Regions from separate parts of the Homo sapiens genome. Here region 1 is linked to region 2. The links come from fine-mapping of genetic effects on gene expression. Tissue or cell type: whole blood. Region 2 holds a variant in brackets; the other region holds the start of a gene. All regions are shown on one strand. Distances are between the middles of the regions.

The links. PIP is the estimated chance that this variant, and not a neighbour inherited with it, causes the effect.
Region 1: it holds the start of MIR3936HG, and the variant in region 2 is fine-mapped to the expression of MIR3936HG in whole blood (INTERVAL, PIP 0.95).

The regions. Positions count from the first base shown.
Region 1 is chr5:132,364,561-132,374,538 of GRCh38, reverse strand. MIR3936HG (MIR3936 host gene) reads left to right here and starts at 4,623. Exons shown (of 8, transcript NR_110997.1): 1 at 4,623-4,695; 2 at 7,758-7,971; 3 at 9,512-9,604. It overlaps SLC22A5 (solute carrier family 22 member 5), which reads right to left and starts at 4,829. Exons shown (of 10, transcript NM_003060.4): 1 at 4,174-4,829. The coding sequence starts at 4,566. MIR3936 (microRNA 3936) reads left to right here and starts at 8,940; the gene lies at 8,940-9,049. RefSeq lists a silencer at 4,627-4,946.
Region 2 is chr5:132,324,203-132,334,180 of GRCh38, reverse strand. It overlaps SLC22A4 (solute carrier family 22 member 4), which reads right to left. Exons shown (of 10, transcript NM_003059.3): 5 at 6,778-6,904; 6 at 2,331-2,425. MIR3936HG (MIR3936 host gene) reads left to right here. Exons shown (of 8, transcript NR_110997.1): 7 at 1,871-1,992. Among named protein-coding and RNA genes, the nearest start is that of SLC22A4, 35 kb to the right of the region's middle. The variant AG/G (reference allele first, on the strand shown) is at 4,707.

The sequences.
Region 1 (9,978 bases), 40 kb before region 2:
CAACAAAGGCGTAACAGTGAGGTTCAAGCTCCAGGTCTCTCGGGTCTCTGCTGCCCAGAGTCAGCCCCGGTCCCAGCTCCCAGGTTGCTCTGGCTTTTCCTCCAGGCAGCTTTGGGGATAACAGTGAGGGCTCTCCCATCTTCTAAGACTATCTGTCTCTACACAAGATAAGGCTGATAGAAAAGCTAGTCCAGGACAATGGGGAGGGAGTGGGAGTCCCACCCAGGACTGGGCCGAGGGCTTCTTAGAAGCAGACAGGTGGAGAGCAAGGCGATGCAGAGCAGCTTGGAAGTTTCTTTTCTTTTTCTTTTTTTTTTTTGAGACGGAGTCTTGCTCTTGTCACCCAGGCTGGCATGCAATGGTGCGATCTTGGCTACTGCAACCCCCACTTCCCAGGTTCAAGAAATTCTCCTGCCTCAGCCTCCCTCCCGAGTAGCTGGGATTACAGGCACCCACCACCACGCAGGGCTAATTTTTGTATTTTTAGCGGATACGAGGTTTCACCATGTTGGCCAGGCTGGTCTCGAACTCCTGCCTTGTGATCCACCTGCCTCAGCCTCCCAAAGTGCTGGGTTTACAGGCATGAGCCACCACACCCAGCCGGAAGTTTCTCAAGGAACCTGTCTGTCCATAGGCTGGACAGAGCTATGGTGAAACCAAAGAGCGGACAGCCCAGACAACCTCAGAAACAACCCAGGTTTCCAGCAGATGGGGCAGTCCATGGCCAAGAAGCACTGCATGATGGGTTGGCTAATTCCCCAGTACCCCAGGGATGACTGAGGGGCCAGAGGAGAGGCCAGCCGAGAACCATGTGGACCACCAAACTATTCCTGGAACATGGGGGCATAAAACTCTTTTACCTCATAAATCATTTTTATTTATTAATATTATTATTATTCTTTTGAGATGGAGTCTCGCTTTGTCGCCCAGGCTAGAGTGCAGAGGCTCGATCTCGGTTCACTGCAAAGCCCGCCTCCTGGGTTCAAGCGATTCTCCTGCTTCAGTCTCCCAAGTAGCTGGGAATACAGGCATGTGCCACCACACCCAGCTAATTTTTGTATTTTTAGTAGAGATGGAGTTTCACCATGTTGGCCAGACTGGTCTTGAACTCCCGACCTCAAGTGACCTGCTGCCTTGGCTTCCCAAAGTGCTGGGATTACAGGCGTGAGCCACCACGCCCTGCCAATATTTATTTATTAATTGCTAGCAGATTCCCTCTGCCAATCCCAACACCTCATTCCACATCCATGTGGCATCAAAGCCCCAGTCAGTGGGCAGGGGGAGTCACATTTCCTTTAAAAAATTCCAGTCAATCCTTTTCAGCCACCCTCAAGTTTCCCTTCTAAGAACTGAACTATTTTTCTTTAGTTCTCAAACTTTAGAGATGATTTCTTAAATTATTCATTAACTCATTCAATAAAAATTTTCCTGAGAACCTCCCTCTGCATCCAGAATTGTGTCAGAAATTGAGGAAGACGCAAAGATCTAAATCCACCACAAAGTTTGGTACTACATGTATGTACTTTAACTTGAACAAATTAAAAAAATCCAAACAGGACACCTGAGGTTCCAGTCTTCAGTGGAAAAAATATGACTAGTAATTCAATACCAGTGTACTTACAAACACCTTTATGTATGATTTGGGGCAGAGGGCAGGCTTAGAGACATTTAGCAGGCATGGGACTAGATGCAGTGGTCAGCAGGCCAGGTTTGGGTTGAAAGACAACAGGCCATAGAAAAAGCCATTAGAATGTTGATGCAGCAACTTCCAGCAGTAGCTGTTCACCTGGGAACAAGCAGCTCTGAACTTCAAGTCAAGCATTCCAGTAGCCCAAAACAAAGATCTAAGCATTAATCTGGCCTCCCTGCAAAGACTGACAACATATAAGTAGGTGAAAGGGCACATAACTCCTTTGAAACTGCTAAGACAGCTAAATAAATAGTCTAAATATTAAAAAACAAAAGGCTGACATTGGCAGCAAGATAAGGTCAGACCCCCTGGCACAGCTGGCCTTTGGGAGCTCATCAATGCCACCATCACTCAGCCCAATGTGGGATGGAGGCAGCAAAGCAGGAACAAGTGACTAGAGTAAGCCGGGGAACCCTCAGGGGTCAATGTAAAACTCCAAGAGATGCCATGTGCTTCTTCTTGCTTCACTACTTCCCTCTTCTTTAGGCAGCCCCAAGTAGAATTTGTAGGGATTCCTGTGTCATGTTCCCCTCTGTGGCCTCTGCCTGCAACCTCAGGGACAGCCTCTGCTTTCATAGTACTCACTGGCTTCCGGGAAGGTAACACACCCACCTGTGAGGCTAGGACCCAGGATTTGTGGCAACTGAAGGTTCCAATTTCCTGTGGATTCATGGGCCAGAAAGCACAGTTGGCTACCTCCAAGGAGTGCCTCTTTTGTCAAGCCATGATGCCTCTGGACACTGAAGCTATGTCACTAGCTAAGAAATCCCAGTGGGGCTCCGGTCACACTCCCACTACATATATGTGGAGAAAGCAGGTCCAAATGCTGGGGACATCAAATTTCCAAAAAGAAAAAACACACACATGCACACACACTTGGATCTCCCAGGGTAGCTCTCAGACTCCATTGAAGGGTGATGACGCCAAGAAGCAACACAGTTGGGATCTCCAGAGCCCCTGTAAGCCCCTCTGAGGCTCCAGGAGGGGAGGCTCAGCACCAACATCCAGCAGGGCTTGAAGCTGTGCCAGGGCCTGTGGCACTCTCCCTCTCTATGAACTCTCCCCTCTCTGTGAACTCCGCCGTCCTGCTGGGTGGTTTCTTGCTGCTGCACTGGGGCCTTCAGCTCACTATTATGCTGAGCTGAACACCCTAGGCTCACGGAGAGGCCTCCTCTTCTGGGAAGCCTTCTCTAACCTGCGAATTGGTCATCTGCACATTTAGTGAGCCTATCTATCAATGAGGGCTATTCACTGGCTACTTACTCAATGCTGCTGAAACTTCAGGGAGCTAGAGTGCCAGTGTCTAAAAAAGACACAAAACACATACATCATTAACATCATGTTCCTACATCCAGCTCCAACAACTGCTCCAACAGGTTCGGAGGGGACAGACAAAACCACCCAGAGGGAAAATCCAAGGGGATGAGAAATGAGAAAGGCTCCCCTACACCCTATGACCTAAGGCTGTATGCTTTAACTAAATCTGGCCGACAGCCTTGCCTCATAATACCTGAGAAAATATTCCAGGTCAACAAGTCACCCTGAACCCATCTTCAGATGAATGGATCTTAAAGAGTGACAACTGACGGCCTGGCGTGGTGGCTCACGGTTGTAATCCCAGCTTTGGAGGCAGAAGCAGGCAGATCACGAGGTCAAGAGATCGAGACCATCCTGGCCAACACGGTGAAACCCCGTCTCTACTAAAAACACAAAAATTAGCTGGGCGTCGTGGCTCACAGCTACTCGGAGACTGAGGCAGGAGAATCACTTGAGCCCGGAAGGCGAAGATTGCAGTGAGCCAAGAACGCACGACTGCGAAGGTTGCAGTGAGCCAAGAACACACGACTGCGCTCCAGCCTGGTGACAGAGGGAGACTCTGTCTCAAAAAAAAAAAAGACTGACAACTGACCATGGGAAAAGGCAAACAATTACTTACAGGGCATGACCAGATTGTCGTTTTTGGGTTGTGGACGGTAGGGGAAGGAGTAACTAGAGGAAAAAGGGAAGAGGCAGTTGTATACACATGCTTTATTTAACTTTTAAAAGTTCAGGAAAGAGAAGTATTTCTTCTCTTCTAAAAAGAAATCAAGAGACTAGAGGAAAAACGGGATAGCCCCTGGCCCAAGTCCTGGCTCTGCTACTTACCACCCCCAACCCCAACTAGAGTAAGTCCTGGACACACAGGGCCATAGAGCATCGCCCAGGGACCGCCAGGACCTTCCTGGTACCCTCTTCAAAGTGGCCATCAGGACGGGAGGCCAGACTGACCACCTGTGCAGGGAGGAGCACACTGTGGCTGGAGGTCACCTCGTGAAGCGTTCCCAAGCCACCTGGCTGGAGGGTCTCCATCGCTAGGGTGTTGACCGTTGGGGGAGGGGGAGTGACAGCGTCCAGTGCGCATCTGGGAGAGAGGAGCTCGGGTTCAAGGACCGCGACAGGTCCTCCGAGCCCTGGTCTCAGCCCCAGCAGGGGCCGGCACCCACCTCGGTCACAATGGTGGACAGGTAGACGTCCTGACTGAACTCCCAGCCATCCAGACAGCTCTCCTGCTCCAGCTGCCCCAGGTCCACGTCGCGCCCCGGCTCCAGCCCAAGCGCCGAGAAGTTGGCGATGGTGGCGAGCCGGTAGCGGCGGCAGCTGTGGGGCACCTCGCGGCCGTCCCGCAGCCGCAGTGGGACAGTGTGGTTGCGCCAGGCGCTGCTCAGGTTCGCGGCGTCCGGCACCCGGCAGCGGTGCTCCGGGGTCGCTATCAGGAACACGGAGGACAGGCCGGTGAAGCCATTGGGGATGATGCTGGCGCTGAGCAGGAAGAAGATGAGGCGCTGGAAGGGCCCCCACTCGCCCAGGAAGGCGGTCACCTCGTCGTAGTCCCGCATGCCGCCCTCAGAGGCCCACAGAGCGCGGCCTGGGGTCGGGGAACGCGGCGGGCTTTGCGCGTGCGCGCGGGGCACCCGCCGCCGACCAGGCAAGCCAGGCAGCAGGCGACCCAAGACCGTCCGCGGAGGGTAGGCTCGCGAGCTGACACCGCCGCCTTGGTCCTGCCGCGGCTGGCCTTACATAGGGCGCACGACCAGGGAAGGTTGCGGGCCTGGGCCGCAAGGCGCGCCCCGCTGGCAGGCAGAGCGGCGCCGGCGAAGGCGGAGCTGGGGCGGGACGCGAGGGCGCGGGGCGGGCCGGGAGTGCACCTGAGGCCCGGGCGGGGCCTGTCCTGGGGACCTGGCGAGGCCCGGCCTCTGCCAGCCAAGCCTGCTGGGGACGACCGAGGTAGCCCGGGCTCGGCTTAGGAAGGCAGCGGGACTCGAGGCCTTGGGGTCCGAGTCCGAACTCGCTCCTCTAGCGCCGGGCGGGGAGCGAGTGGGAGAGCGGCCGCGAAGCTCCAGTGTTGAAAACGCACCCCTCCCAGCTTTTTGCAAGGCCTACTTGGGGGCGGAGGTAAGGAGAAAGTCACTGGCCCAGGGTCTCACAGATAGTTGCTCTTGACACCGCCTAATCTTATAAGAGGGACGGGGATTATTTTGAACCTGGGACTGTTAACTACCCTAGTAGAGAGGCTGGGAGCTATGACTTTTCATTCTAGTCCAGATGCCCTTTCCACATTTTCGTCTGTAACAAGCCATTTTGTTCATGCAGATGTAAAAATTTAACTTCACGATTAACGATCCTAGCCTAGGGTTAAATATTCCCCACAGATTAGTTATTTCCGTGCAGAGTTTATTCAGAAGCTAACTGGAAAAAAAAAAAAAGCAGCGAGGTGATTCTAAAGCAGCAATGTTCCATAGGATAAGGAGCTACATTTGTTATGTTAACTTTTCTAGTAGCCATATTAATAAAATTGCCAGATTTAGCAAATAAAAATATAGGACTCCTAGTTAAATTTGAATTTCAGATATAGAATGAATAATTTTTAAATATTATGTCCCAAGCAGGAATATATAAAATAAAAATGTAACTGGTTGTCCTGTATTTTATTGGGCAATGCTGCATATTTAAAAAGTAAAAATAAAAGATGAAATTAACTTTAATGGTATATTTAATCAAGTATATCCAGAACATGATCATTTCATCATATAATCAATATAGAAATTATTGATATTTTACATTGTTATATGTAAATCATTGATCTTTTTTTCCCCTCCTCATACTAAATCTTAAGAATTCAGTGTGTTTCACAGGTTCTCAGGATTTGAAAAAAAAAAAAAAAGGAATCCAGTGTGTATTTTACAGCACATTTCAATTTGGACTAGCCACACTTTTTATTTTTTAATATTTATTTATTCATTTATTTATTGGAGACACGGTCCCACTGTGTCACCCAGGCTAGAGTGCAGTGGCACAATCATAGCTCACCGCAGCCCTGAACTCCTAAGCTTAAGTGGGCCTCCTGCCTCAGCCTGCTGAGTAGCTAGGACTACAGGCACATGCCACCGTGCCCAGCTAATTTTTTTATTTTTTTTATTTTACAGAGACAAGGCATCCCTGTGTTGCCCAGGCTGGTCTCAGACTCCTGGGTTTAAGCAATCCTCCCACCTCAGCCTCCCAAAATGCTGAATTACAGACGTGAGCCACTATGCCTGGCCAGACTCATTTTTTAAGTGCTCAGTAGCCACATGTAGCTATTGGTTATCTTATTGGACAGCACCATTCCTAAGGCCTTTAAGAATTTGGGCTGCTAAACTTAACAATGCAAGATATTCCTTTTTAAAATAGTAGTGGCTTAGTGATAGAAACAGAACTAAGTGTATATTTTTACAATATAATGTGTTGAGTAAAGAATATTTAATAGTCACTATATTATGAGTTGAAAATAAAGCTACAGAAAGGGAACCTAACCTGGCCAGCAGATTTTTAACAAGGAAATCTAAACATTTGCATAAAGCATAATAGACTTAAAAAAATTATGATAAAGATGTTATCACAGGACTTGTTTGTTTCTTTATACTTACTATTCACTATTCTTACTTCCTGAAGATGGATGGTTATACCTTCAGCAATGTACTTAAATCCTTCTAACATCTTATGTGAAGTTATAGTTCTTATCTAGAACTAACTGAAAAAGAAAGCAAAGCTTCTTGAAAATAAACTCCTTTTTTGTGTGCTAAAATATTATTTTAATGCTTCAAAAGAAATGAAAGCTTTTATGAGAAGAATGTTGACCTCTGTCCAGACCAAACAAGATGAAGAAGTCTTATTTTAACATTTGAGAAATATCAGTTGGGCATCAGATAACATTCCTGAAAGGGACTGAAAACAATGCAGTATACTACAAAAGAAGCTGCATATCCTTAGGAAGAAAAGAAACTATTTGTCATAGATGGCTTGTCCACATGCGCAAAGCAGAGAGCAACCTAAGATGGTGCCGTCCAGTTCCAGGTGCACTGTGATTACTATCTGAATGCCATTACTATTTAAATTGCATTTTTTTTTTGAGACAGGGTCTCCTTCTGTCACCCAGGCTGGAGTGCAGTGAGGTGGTCTTGGCTCACTGCAGCCTCAACCTCCTGGGCTCAAGCAATCCTCCCACCTGAGCCTTCCAAGTGCCTGGGACTACAGCCACGCGCCGCTACACCCAGCTATTTTTTTTGTATTTTTGGTAGAGACAGGGTTTTGCCATTTTGGCCAAGCTGGTCTCAAATTCCTGACCTCAAGTGATCCCCCCGTCTTGGCCTCCCAAAGTACTGGGATTATAGGTAGGAGCCACCATACCCAGCCTTAAATTTCATCTTTTAAAAGAGAAAGAGAGCTTAGAATCTTAATCAGTTACCTGAGGCCCTTTATCCTGCAATATTCTGAATTGGGATGTTCCTATTTTACATATTAAAAAATGTAAAACTGATTTATATGGTAGATAACCCTACAGTTCAGGGCTAGAACTTTAGATTAAATGCATTCATACCCTGGCAGATGTGGTAGCTTGCCTCCAAGATGGCACCCAATGAATGATCCCTGTACCAGGATTGGTCTATGTGACCAAAAGCATACAGCATTAGTGATGATACTTATATCACTTGGGTAATTACATTATAAAAGATGTCCATCATGGGTGTTCTTTTCCCTTTCTCTTGCTCAGAGACAAGCAAGCTGTCATGTTATAAGCAGCCCTTTGAGGGGTCCATGTGATGTCAAGGAATGAAGTCTCTAGCCAACATTTAATGAGGAACTGAGGCCCACCAACAACCTTGAGTGAGCTTGGAAGTAGCTCCTTCAGCATCAGTTGGGTGTCGAGATGACTACTGACAGCTTGACTGCAACTTCATGAGAGTCTTCTGGACCAGAACCACTCAGTTAAGTGGCTCCCAGATTCCTGATCCTCAGAAACTCTGAGAAATAATGAATGTTGGTTGTTTTAAAATGGTAAATTTTGAGGTATTATGTTATGTGGCAATAGATAGCTAATATATAAATTATTTGAATCAAACAATACGTTAAATTAAAGCTCAGAAGAATAAACATCTGTAATTCCTTAATTTGTTTTCCCTTCTATTCTACAGAATAGAATTTTACAGATGAACCTTGTAGTTACTTGTGCAATAAGAGACAGTATGTTGTATTGATTAAGTGCAGAGCCTCTGGATGTATGATAGAAGAAAGACCAATATTCAATTGCTTTCTTCTTCAATTCCAAGCTTGTGAGCTTGAGCAAATTTTAAAAGTGTTTTAAGCCTCAGTTTCCTGGGATGGTAGTGCTTAGCTCGAGCTCCTAGCATATATTAACTACAAACTAAATATTAGCTATAATTATTAGTTTTACTTTGATTATTGACTCTAAATAAATACCTTAAGAACTTTGTGTTCTCCACAGATTTGGATATGTCTGGACGTTATGTAGGCTGGAGTAGTCAGCAATTACTTGCCTGAGGAAGGGAAGGCCTCCTCCTTTAAGAAAAGAATAGGCTGGGTGCGGTGGCTCATACTTGTAATCCCAGCATTTTGGGAGGCTGAGGAGGGTGGATCACCTGAGGTCAGGAGTTTGAGACCAGCCTAAGGAACATGGTGAAACCCTGTCTCTACTAAAAATACAAAAATTAGCCAATTGTGGCACGCGCCTGTAGTCCCGGCTACTCAGGAGGCTGAGGTGAGAGGATTGCCTGAGCCTGGGAGGTGGAGGTTGCAGTGAGCCGAGATCGCGCCACTGCACTCCAGCCTGGGCAACAGAGTAAGACTCCGTCTCAAAAAAAAAAAAAAGAAAGAAAGAAAAGAGTAGAAGGCCCAAGCTTAGTCCAATATTATAGCTTCAGCATCAGAGTAGAGAATGATTCAGAGCATCTGTCCAGTGTCTGCTGTAGATCCCTCAAATCCGTGTTTGGACGCTTCTGGTAAGGGGTGTATGGCAGATGCACCCGACAGATGCACTTGGCAGCAATAACTTATGCATACCTGAAGAATGACCCTATGGTCTAAGAAGAATGTGTGTTCAGAGCTCCAAGCTAAGGAATCTGGGAGTGGCCAACCCAGATATTTCATTTCTTATCTATGACGAACTTCTGAACTGCTCCCACCCCCAGCCCATCCTGTAGAATGCAGGCCCTACGAGGCGATCAAAGCCCTTTGTTTTAGGTTAAATGAAGGTTGCCTGGTGGAGGTTGCTAGGGGAAAGGTGTTAAGTAAAAATGTTATATAAACTGCATGGTGTTTTTTGTTTGTTTTTGTTTTTTTGAGACAGAGTTTTTGCTCTTGTTGCCCAGGCTGGAGTGCAATGGTGCAATCTCGGCTCACTGCAACCTCCGCCTCCTGGGTTCAAGTGATTCTGCTGTCTCAGCCTCCCAAGTAGCTGGGATTACAGGTGCCCACCACCAGGCCCGGCTAATTTTTTGTATTTAGTAGAGTCAGGGTTTCCCCATGTTGGTCAGCCTGGTCTCAAACTCCTGACTTCAGGTGATCCACCTGCCTCAGCCTCCCAAAGCGCTGGGATTACAGGTATGAGCCACCACGCCTGGCCAATTGCATGCTTTTTACAAGGAGTTTTGGTTCTCCTGCCCAGCCCACTGCCACTGGACTGCCCTGTATTGTAAGTCCCCTCAATAAACCTTATGTCTCAGTTTCTGGTTCTAGGTCTCTTCTTCAGCCTCTTGAACATGGTGCCATCCCTACTGAAGTCAATGGGGTCTGACATGACTAGGGGAACTTGAACAAAATCTGAAATAGCTGTTTTTTTCTTGCCAAAATCACTGTAAGACATTATTTGCCTCAGCCCCAGAACATTGAATTATATGACCCAAGAGTGGAGAAACAGAGAAGTCTGTCTGTGTCATCAGACAATATCCCAAGTGGGATGTCATCACCCCAATGCA
Region 2 (9,978 bases):
TTCAAAGTATCACAGACTGCAGTCTGTATATTCTGTCATTATAGTTAACTTCCATGTAGAAGCTTCTCTGTGGGCCATGCGTGGTGGCTCATGCCTGAAATCCCAGCACTTTGGGAGACCGAGGCAGGCAAATCACCTGAGGTCAGGAGTTTGAGACCAGCCTGGCCAACATGGTGAAACCCCGTCTCTACTTAAAAGACAAAAATTAGCCAGGCATGGTGGTGGCATGTGCCTATAATCCCAGCTACTTGGGAGGCTGAGACAGGAGAATTGCTTGAACCCAGGAGGCGAAGGTTGCAGTGAGCTGAGATCGCACCATTGCACTCCAGGCTGGGTGACAGAGCGAAACTCTATCTCAAAAAAATAAAAACATAAATAAAAAAAAGAAGCTTCTCTGTGGAAAAATAACTATGTAACTGAGTACCCCCATTTTTCTAAGAGATAGTTTATTTTCTCTCTCTCTTCTTTTCTCTTTCCTCCTTTTCTGCACTTTCTACTTAGCTCTTTAGAAGTGCAATTATAGCCTTTTAACCTCCTCTTCACTGGACACTCCCTGCAGGGCAAATTCATCTAACTATGTGCTTAGAAGCTCCAGAGTGGAACTCTCACCGCCCAGATTTCCTCAAGCGATATCAGTCAATTTCCAACTCAAAGTATGCCTGCTAGAGTTTTTGGCCACCTATACAACCTGTTTCTGCCCATGAAGGCACCACCTCAACTGCCCAGTAGATAAGGCAGCAAGCTAGCCCTCTGATCCCTCACCTGCTCGCGTCCTCCCCTGCCTTTTAGAAGTGCCTGCTTTCCGCTTCAAAAAGAGGAGCGGTGGTACCCTTCAGGCAGGAAGCCGATACCTTTCTCCCTAAGCTAGCTTTGGAATAAAAAGTCACTTTCCTTACATCAGACTTTGCTCTTGTTAATTGGACGCTGCAAGCTGTGAGTGACTGAACCTGAGTTTTTGTTACAACTGCACTATGCAGACACCCCTGTGTAGAAATTTGCTTATTATTAACATGACTGAGAAGCAGAGGATATCTGAAAAATGACTTCAGGAACACTAGTGGATCTTTTTACACATACTAGACCCAAATTAGATAATACAAGGACTAATTCATAAACACAACAAATAAGTATGCTCAAGGGATCTTAGTGATTTTCCCATTTAGTAATAGGAGTAGTTTAGATAGAACTAGTGACTAATTTTTTATTAGCTTAGTAGCACCACTACCCAAGAACATTTGCATCAGGGATATAGGCTGAAATGTAAGAACTAAGAAGCCCATGTACCTAGGACACACTTGCTTAATTCAGACGCATAAGCTCTGTCATTGATCTCTTCTAATTGCCAAGTAGGATGGCCCTTAAAAATAAACTTAGATTAGCTGCAGCCTAAATCTACCAGTTCTGACGATCATCGTGTGTGTGTGTGTGTGTGTGTGTGTGTGTGTGTGTGCTGCCATCATAGAGTAGGAATTTTCTTTTTTCCTTTTTTCTTGGCAGATAAATTATTAAATCTAATCTATAAAGCCAATTCAGTATTTCTGCGCCTGAAAGCCACTTGTTAGTTTGCTATTGGCACGTGTAAAAAGCTGATCAAGGCTCCAATCCAGGCAATGGGGATCTAGGTTATTCTAGCCTCAGTGTTCAATTGCCAGGTCAGCTTCAGGAAGCAGGAGCTGAATTAGCATCTCTGCCTCAGGCAACACGGACATCATTAGTCTTAATCTCATAATTTTTGGTGGGGAGGGAACCATTACCCAGGGACATCAATGATCTCAATCCCATAACTTTAGGAGGGGGAAGGGAATGCTTTCCCTTTGGGTCCCAGTACTGCAGACTTAAATACTGTACCCTGTGACTTTTTTTTTTTTAGATGGAGTCTTGCTCTGCTGCCCAGGCTGGAGTACAGTAGTGCGATCAAGGCTCACTGGAACCTCCACCTCCTGGGTTCAAGTGATTCTCCTGCCTCAGCCTCCCAAGTAGCTGGGATTACAGGTATGTGCCACCATGCCCAGGTAATTTTTGTATTTTTAGTAGAGACGGGGTTTCACCATGTTGGCTAGATTCGTCTCGAACTCCTGACCTCAGGTGATCTGCCCACCTTGGCCTCCCAAAGTGCTGGAATTACAGGCGTAAGCCATTGCGCCCAGTGACATTTTTCAATATCTAGTCCCATGAACTGAATAGAGGCATTTCAAAATAATTTAGAATTTTATAATCTTAATTTTTCCTCAGGAAAACCCAGTCGTTGTCATAATGTTCCTCTGAGTTAAGAAAATCAGTTGCATACTTATGTGCTGGATATCTGCATTTCCAGGTCACTTATTACTTACCATAGCAGCAAAGACATAATGGTCATTATGGCAATATTCCGAGTCCTGAACAGGTCCAGAATGAAAGCTTTCTGCTGCTTCAGGGGATTTAGCTCCTGTAACCAAAATAATGCAAATAACCATGAGATTAAGAGGTAGTAAGGAAGTATCTTTGGCTATGATGCATGGGGAAAACTTATGCATGCAACTCTCACTTCACCTTGACTATGCTTAGAAGTCTGGTGATTGGAGGCAATAGGGCATCTACATATATGACACTTACTCTGACACTTTAAAATGTTTGTAGTCCATTTTACACAGAAGCCTTTTAAATATATAACACCCCCTTCCCTGTCTCGTTAGACAAAGCCTGTTGGCTAACATAGCCTTTCTCTGACTGACAGTCAGAGAATGGATGTCATTTACCACACTGATCTGTGATCCTCAGGACTGCCTATTGAAGGGTAGGGCCATGTAGTCCCTTCCTTGAGGCCACGTCTGCTTTTTACACTTCTCTGTTTATTTGTTTGTTTTTTTTAGATGGAGTCTAGCTCTGTGGCCCAGGCTGGAGTGCAGTGGTGTGATCTCAGCTCACTGCAACCTCCACCTCCCAGGTTCAAGCGATTCTCCTGCCTCTCAGCCTCCTGAGTAGCTGGGATTACAGGCGAGCACCACCGCATCTGGCTAATTTTTGCATTTTTTGTAGAGACTGGGTTTCACCATGTTGGCCAGGTTGGTCTCAAACTCCTGGCCTCAAGCAGTCTGCCCACTTTGGCCTCCCAAAGTGCTGGGATTACCCAGCCTTGCTTTTTACACTTCTCTTGTTGTAGTCATTTAGCATCAGAACAGACTTCAGTTTACTGGCGGGCCTTGGGCAAGTAACGATCCTCTCTGAACTTCAGCTTACTGCTATATAAAATGGGTATATTAATTGGGAGTTGAGAGATTAAATGAGATCATATATATATAGCTTAGCACAGTGCTTGAACCATGGTAAATGTCCAGTAAATTTAAACTATTATTATTATTACTGTATCATTGAGGAAAAGAGGCTAGCCATCAGCGGTCAGTGACAAATCCTTACTGCTATCAATGGGTTTATACTCTTTTACTTTTATTTATATTTATTTTCTTGTTTGTTTTTTGAGAGGGAGTTTCACTCTTGTTGCCCAGGCTGGAGTACAGTGGCGCGATCTCAGCTCACTGCAACCTCCGCCTCCCAGGTTCAAGCAATTCCCCTGCCTCAGCCTCCTGAGTAGCTGGGATTACAGGCACCTGCCACCACACCTGGCTAATTTTTGTATTTTTAGTAGAGATGGGGTTTCGCCATATTGGCCAGGCTGGTCTCAAACTCCTGACTTCAGGTGATCCATCCACCTCAGCTTCCCAAAGTGCTGGGATTACAGGTGTGAGCCACTGCGCCCGGCCTATTCTTTTGCTTTTAATTTGCTGATATTAACTTGCTATGAGTTATGAATCAAGGTAACCAAGCTGATTAGAATTGAAACTAACATAAAAGTTATTAGGCTCTGAGGTGGGGAATCTCTCAGGGATGAAGTACCAGGACTTTGTGACTTTGTGGCCCTACAGTGCATGCGCAGTAAGAGACTGATGGAGGAGTTTTTATTATGAAGAAGTGGGAGTGCCAGGCCTGCCTTCACAGCAGGTCCTCTCCAAATGTGAGTGTCCTTTTTTCTAGGAATGATCAGACACTTACACAGCTCACAGCCACATTGCCTTTTCTCTCTTGCACTATTTGGATTGTAGAGCCCCAGAACATGCCCCCAGCAGAATAACCCTGGTATTATAACAAAGCAAAGCCACTGCATAAACTAGTGGGAACCAGACATCTTCTTGGAGGGTTCCAGGGTGGTGCACACAGACAGGACCTGTGGACCAGTCCTGTGCTAATACTTGGTGGTTCCACGGGGCCCTTCTTAAATGCAGGTTGCCAGGTTCCTCCCTGGGCTTGCCTACTTCGACTCTTTTAAACAGAGGCCTGAGAATCTGTATTCTTAAAGCACTTGGGTGATTGTGATGAGCAGCCAGGATTGGAAACCTCAGAACAAGAATATGCTTGTATCCAGTGGTTGTCCCTGGCCTGGGTGGAGCCACCAAAATGTCTTTGGATCAGGTACCAGAAGCAGGTTGAAGGTGCTTCTTCTGAAGCCAAGGATGCTTGAGATTGCTTTCTAAGACAATACTCTACTCTATATCTTTTCCTATCCAAGTTAATGCTACTGCCTGTAACATGAAGTGAAAAATCACAGTTGTTAAGAGCATGTACTTTGGTGCCTGGGAGAACTAGGTCACAAATCCCAGTTTAACATCTGTGTGATCCTGGGCAAGTTACTTAACTTCGCTGTGCCTTAGTTTCTTTTTTTGAAAAAAAAAAAA[AG/G]CATGAGCAATGAGCAGAACACAGTGCCTGGCATTTGGTAGGCTCTTCAATATCATTCTAAATAGGGTGCATTTGCTGGCACAGGGCTCTGCAGATCCTCCTAAAGAGGATCCTACGGGAGGTGAGCAGGGGAGATGACCAGGCCTCAGGAAAGCGCAAGCCCCCTTTCCCTTAATGGGTTTGTCCAGTTCAGGCTAGATGTGCATCATGGCAGGAAGAAAGAAGGCACTGTCAGGCTGAGAATGATGGCTCACATCTGTAATCCTAGCATTATGGGAGGCTGAGGTAGGAGGATTGCTTGAGCCCAGGAGTTTGAGACCAGCCTGGGCAACATAGTGAAACCCTGTCTCTACAAAAAAAAATACAAAATGTTAGCTGGGTTTGGTGGCAAGTGCCTGTAGTCCCAGCTTGGGAGGTTGAGGTGGGAGGATTGCTTGAGCCCAGAAGGTCGAGGTCGAGGCTACATTGAGCTGTAATTGTACCACTGCACTCTAGCCTGAGCAAAACAGTGAGACTCAAAATTTTTTTAAAGTGTGTGTGTGTATATATATATATATATATATATATATACACATACACACATATATATACACATTTATATATGCGTGTGTGTGTGTGTGTGTGTGTGTGTGTGTATATATATATATATAAAGGCACTGCCAGAACCATGTGTTTTAACACTGAACTATATTCTTATTTGTCCATAACTATATATCTCATATCTATTTTATGATTGCTGTCATCCACATAGGTAGATCCCTACAACTAGACTCTAAGTTTCACAGATAGGAATCAGGCCACCTAGCTGATAAATACCGATAAACACCCCAGCACAGCCCTGAAGGGCAGAAGTGTTAGACACTCCCAATGTTGTTGTTGTTGTTGTTGTTGTTGTTTTATCCATTTAAATTGACTGAGACTTGAAATGGACTTCTTGATTTGAAGGGCAAAGGATTAAGGGATGTTTTGTCCTGGCAGCCCTCTGAGAGCTTGAGTTCATGGCCAGTCTAAGCCTCTAGCCATAGCCAGAGTATCTGCTTCTGGAAAAGGTCCTGAAGGCCAGGGACTGGGGAAGCCGTGGGGGTGAGCAGTGGCATGCCCACCGTCCTCTACAGAGTTCTGCTTTCTGTACTACATGCTTTGGTGCAGGGCATGTATAATGTTACTGAAGCCACCACAGTCTTTTTTAGGTGTCCTGAGCAGACTCCTACCTATCTCCTAGACAGGAATGCCCTGCCCCATCCTCTCCACTCATTTAAGTGAGTCCTGCTGTCCTCCCTGGCTTGGACCTGCCTCCAGCCATGGGCCACCCTGCTATCTTTCTCTGTATTGCTGGCACACAGTGTCTCTACTTGGATACTTACCATTTCCTCCCTTATGCCATTCTTTATCTTTTTATCTAATCCTCTTGCCAATCTTAGTTACATTCTATGTTCCTTTAGAATTTGGGCTGTGTCTTTTCTTATTTCCTCTAGGAGCCAGCACAGGGCATGGCACACTGCATATCCTCACGAACTGTCAGGAGGTGTGGCTGCTTCCACAGAATATCAGCTTTTCCTTGTGGCCACCAGCTTTCAAGGGTGAATCCTCAAGCCTGTGCTTTCAGGCCTTAAGGTTCTAGACATGACACAGAGTGAGACTAAAGACATGCATAGCTTCCTCAGCAGTCTGTGGTAAGATTCAGGGTACAGTGGAGAACCCAGGGTGGACTAGCCCTGAAACATATTTTTCCACTTAATCTGGACATTTAAAAATCATCAGTACATAGCTGTGTCAGTGGTTTGGAGCAATGCCAATAGAAAGTTGATGATAAACTTGCAAAATAAAGCAAACTAATATTTAATGAACGCTTGCTATTTGCTAAGCAGTTTACATATATTATTGCATTTAATTCTTATAAACAGCCCTTTAAGGTGGATTTTATCTTAGAATTTAATCATGATTGTGTTCCTAAGGCCTAGTGCAATGCCTGGTACATAGTGGGCACTTAACAAATATTGAATTAAGTTAAATTCCATAAAATCAAGAATGCATAGCTGATCTCAAGAGGAAACATCTGCAAATGCTTACCTCCACAGAATCAAATATCACTGCTGGTACAGCTATGTTGTTCATTTTTGCAGCTTTTTGGATGATATCTTCAGCCTCTCTAAATCTTCTCTGGGATATCAGCCATCGGGGAGATTCAGGAATGAACCTATAATTTATTTTTAATATTTAATAATTTTTCACAACAGCAGGGCTGGATACTATTAAATCTGAGTTTCCCCCAAATAGTTTTAATTTTGTAAAATTCTAGTTTGTCTTTTTAAAGGGAGTCCACATAAGATTTCTATTGGAGCATAGGAATAAATAAAACCACCTTCAAGTTTCAAACTTCTGATCAAATTATAAGACCGATCATCAGTTGTGCTTGAGACCAGGACCAGACCATAAGGGGTGACATTAACTATGGGCATGTTTGAGCCAGGGCTCTGGAGAAGTTCATCCAAAACTTATAGGTAGTGTGGCTCATAAAAGAAACATAGCTACTAGACTATAAGTTCCCCTAGAGAAGAGACTGTCTTTGCAGTGGGTCCATCCTAAGGAGAATTGCTGGTGTCCCAGCTGGTGATGTTCACAGTTTATTGGGAAAAGGATGGCCAGGGCACCTGTGTTCTTGATCGTTTCCTTTAGTCAAAAGAGAAAGTGAGGGCACTGACACCCGCCTGTGTGGGGCCCCCATGGCTTTCAACAGATTCCCAGATCAGCGAGTGCCCAAACCAGCTTTTGGGAGATGAGCCCCAATGTTGTCTTTTTGTTAATGTCTAAAAAAGCTTATTGTTTTAAATTACATAGTCTATTCCCATTTATAGCTGATGCTCAAACACAGTTGCAAATAATAGGGCTTCTATTCTTTCTAAATTTTTATTTCTCAAAATCTTTTAGCCATTCTCCTGTCAGCTCTCATTTTCCTTACCTATTGTCAGTACAGATGGTCCCTAACTTATGATGGTTCGACTTATGATTTTTCTACTATAGGAGAAAAATGATATGCATTGAGTAGAAACCTTACTTTGAGTGCTCATACATACAGCCATTCTGTTGTTCACTTTCAGTACAGTATTTAATAAATTACATGAAATATTCAACACTTAATTATAAAATAGGTTTTGTGTTAGAAAATTTTGCCCAATTGTAGGCTAATGTAAGTGTTCTGAGCATGTTTAAGGTAGGTCAGGCTGAGCTATGATATTTGGTAGGGATGCAGGGCAGGCAAGCTCCAGAGTGGGGTTTGGCCCATGAGGGTTCTTGGCTTTGCCCAGGAAAGAATTCAAGGGCAAACTGGAGGTGGAAGAAAACAGCTTTATTGAAGAGGCAATGTTACAGCTCCGTGACTGCTCCTGCAGAGCAGGGCTGCCCCACAGGCAGAGAGTAGCAGCTCAGGACAGTTTTGCACTCATATTTATAACTACTTTTAATTACATGTAGATGAAAGGTCAGTTTATGCAGAAATTTCTAGGGAAAGGGTAGTAATTTTTGGGTCATTGGGTCATTGCCATGGAAAGGGGCAATAAAGCCTGAGTGTTGTCATGGCAACAGTAAACTGACATGGCACACGGGTGGGCGTGTCTTATGGAAAGCGTCTTCTGCCCTGGCTGTGTTTTAGCTGGTCCTCAATTTGGTCCAGTGTCCAAGCCCTGCCTCTGGAGTCGTGTCTGGCCTCCTACCTCAGTAGGTTAGGTGTATTGACCTAGAATATTCTCAATTTACAATGGGCTTATTGGGATGTAACCCCATTATAAGTCAAAGAGCATCTGTACTTACTTAGCCTAGACAACAAATTATAAGTAGCAGACACAGAGTCCTGTGTAGTTAATTGGCCCCAAACCCACACTAGGAATTAGCTCAGAGCAAAACAAATGACCAACCAGCAGGTCCCCTCTCCAGCTTAATAGCACATGAGTTGAAAAATGAGCCTAGTTTGCATTTTTCAGAATATGCCTTTAGTGGGTCCCTATAGGAACTACAATAATGTTAGGTCACTGACTCTCAGTAATTAGAACTGTGCTGTCCGATAGAAACTTCTGAAATGTTCTGTATCTGTACTAAGACAGCACCCACTAACCACATGTAGCTATTGAGCTAGTGTGATTGAAGAAATGAAAATTCAATTTTATTTACTTTTAATTAATTTTAACTTAAATAGCTGCATGTGGCTGGTGGCTACTATATTAGTGCAGAATTAGAGATCTTACTACACAGCCACGATATACCTCATGGATGGGGCCAGTATCTTTCTCCAACCAGATTATGCTTAGAAATATCCTACCTTTTTTTCTACAGACCACTGGCCTCAGATTCTTAATGTTTAATCAGCTAGAAATTGCATAGCTTTCCTCACATTGCATCTATGGCCTGCTTCCCTACCCCATCCCCACCGCCTATACACATACTCCATTCACACCTGTGGCCACTTACTGCCAAGCCTTTTAAAGGAAACTTGGGACATAAAAAGTCCCCCAAACCACCAGCAGTGCCTCTATGTAGGTTTACCTCCCATTTCTAGCCCACTGTACTCAGGGCCACTGGTATCTCTAGTTTTGAATTGCTTTGATTTTTTTTTGGTGCACATAATCTCAAATCTAGCTGATCATTTCAAAAGTCAATGGAGTGCCAAATGAGGTAGCACACTATAATCTCTCTGTAGATTGAATTCAGACTAAACAGCAGTGAGGTGTTGCTGGAGAGCTTGTCTCATACTGAGCAGGCGGCAGGGTCCATGTCAGCTCTAAGCATCCCTCCATACCCCAACCACTAGACTGATGAGCATCCCTTTGGGAAGACCCACCTGCAAGGATGGGATGTTCAGAAGAAAGCTATTTTCTTTTATAGGAAAATGGTAAGACCACTGGTAAATGTTCAGGGGGAGCACTCAGCTTGTCAGTGCTGGTCCCAGGCTGGCCTCTGTCTGGGGCAAGTCCTGTCCCTGGTACAGTATGCCCACAGCCAGGAGCATTCATGGACCAGCTCCTGGGGAATAGAAGAAAAAGCTCTCCTTAGGGCACAGTGAGCAGGCTCCCTGTGGGATGGACCTTCTCTGCTGGAAACTCTGGAGGCTGACTCTGGAGGGCTAATGGATCAGAGCTGTTCGTTCCTCGCTGTGACATATGGTCCCGAGGCAAAGATCCCATCCCTACTAATCTCTGTACAGCCCATCAGAGGCTTTATATTGTTATTCTCTCTCTCTCTTTCTCTCTGATAGAATCATACCTTAATCAGATTGATTAT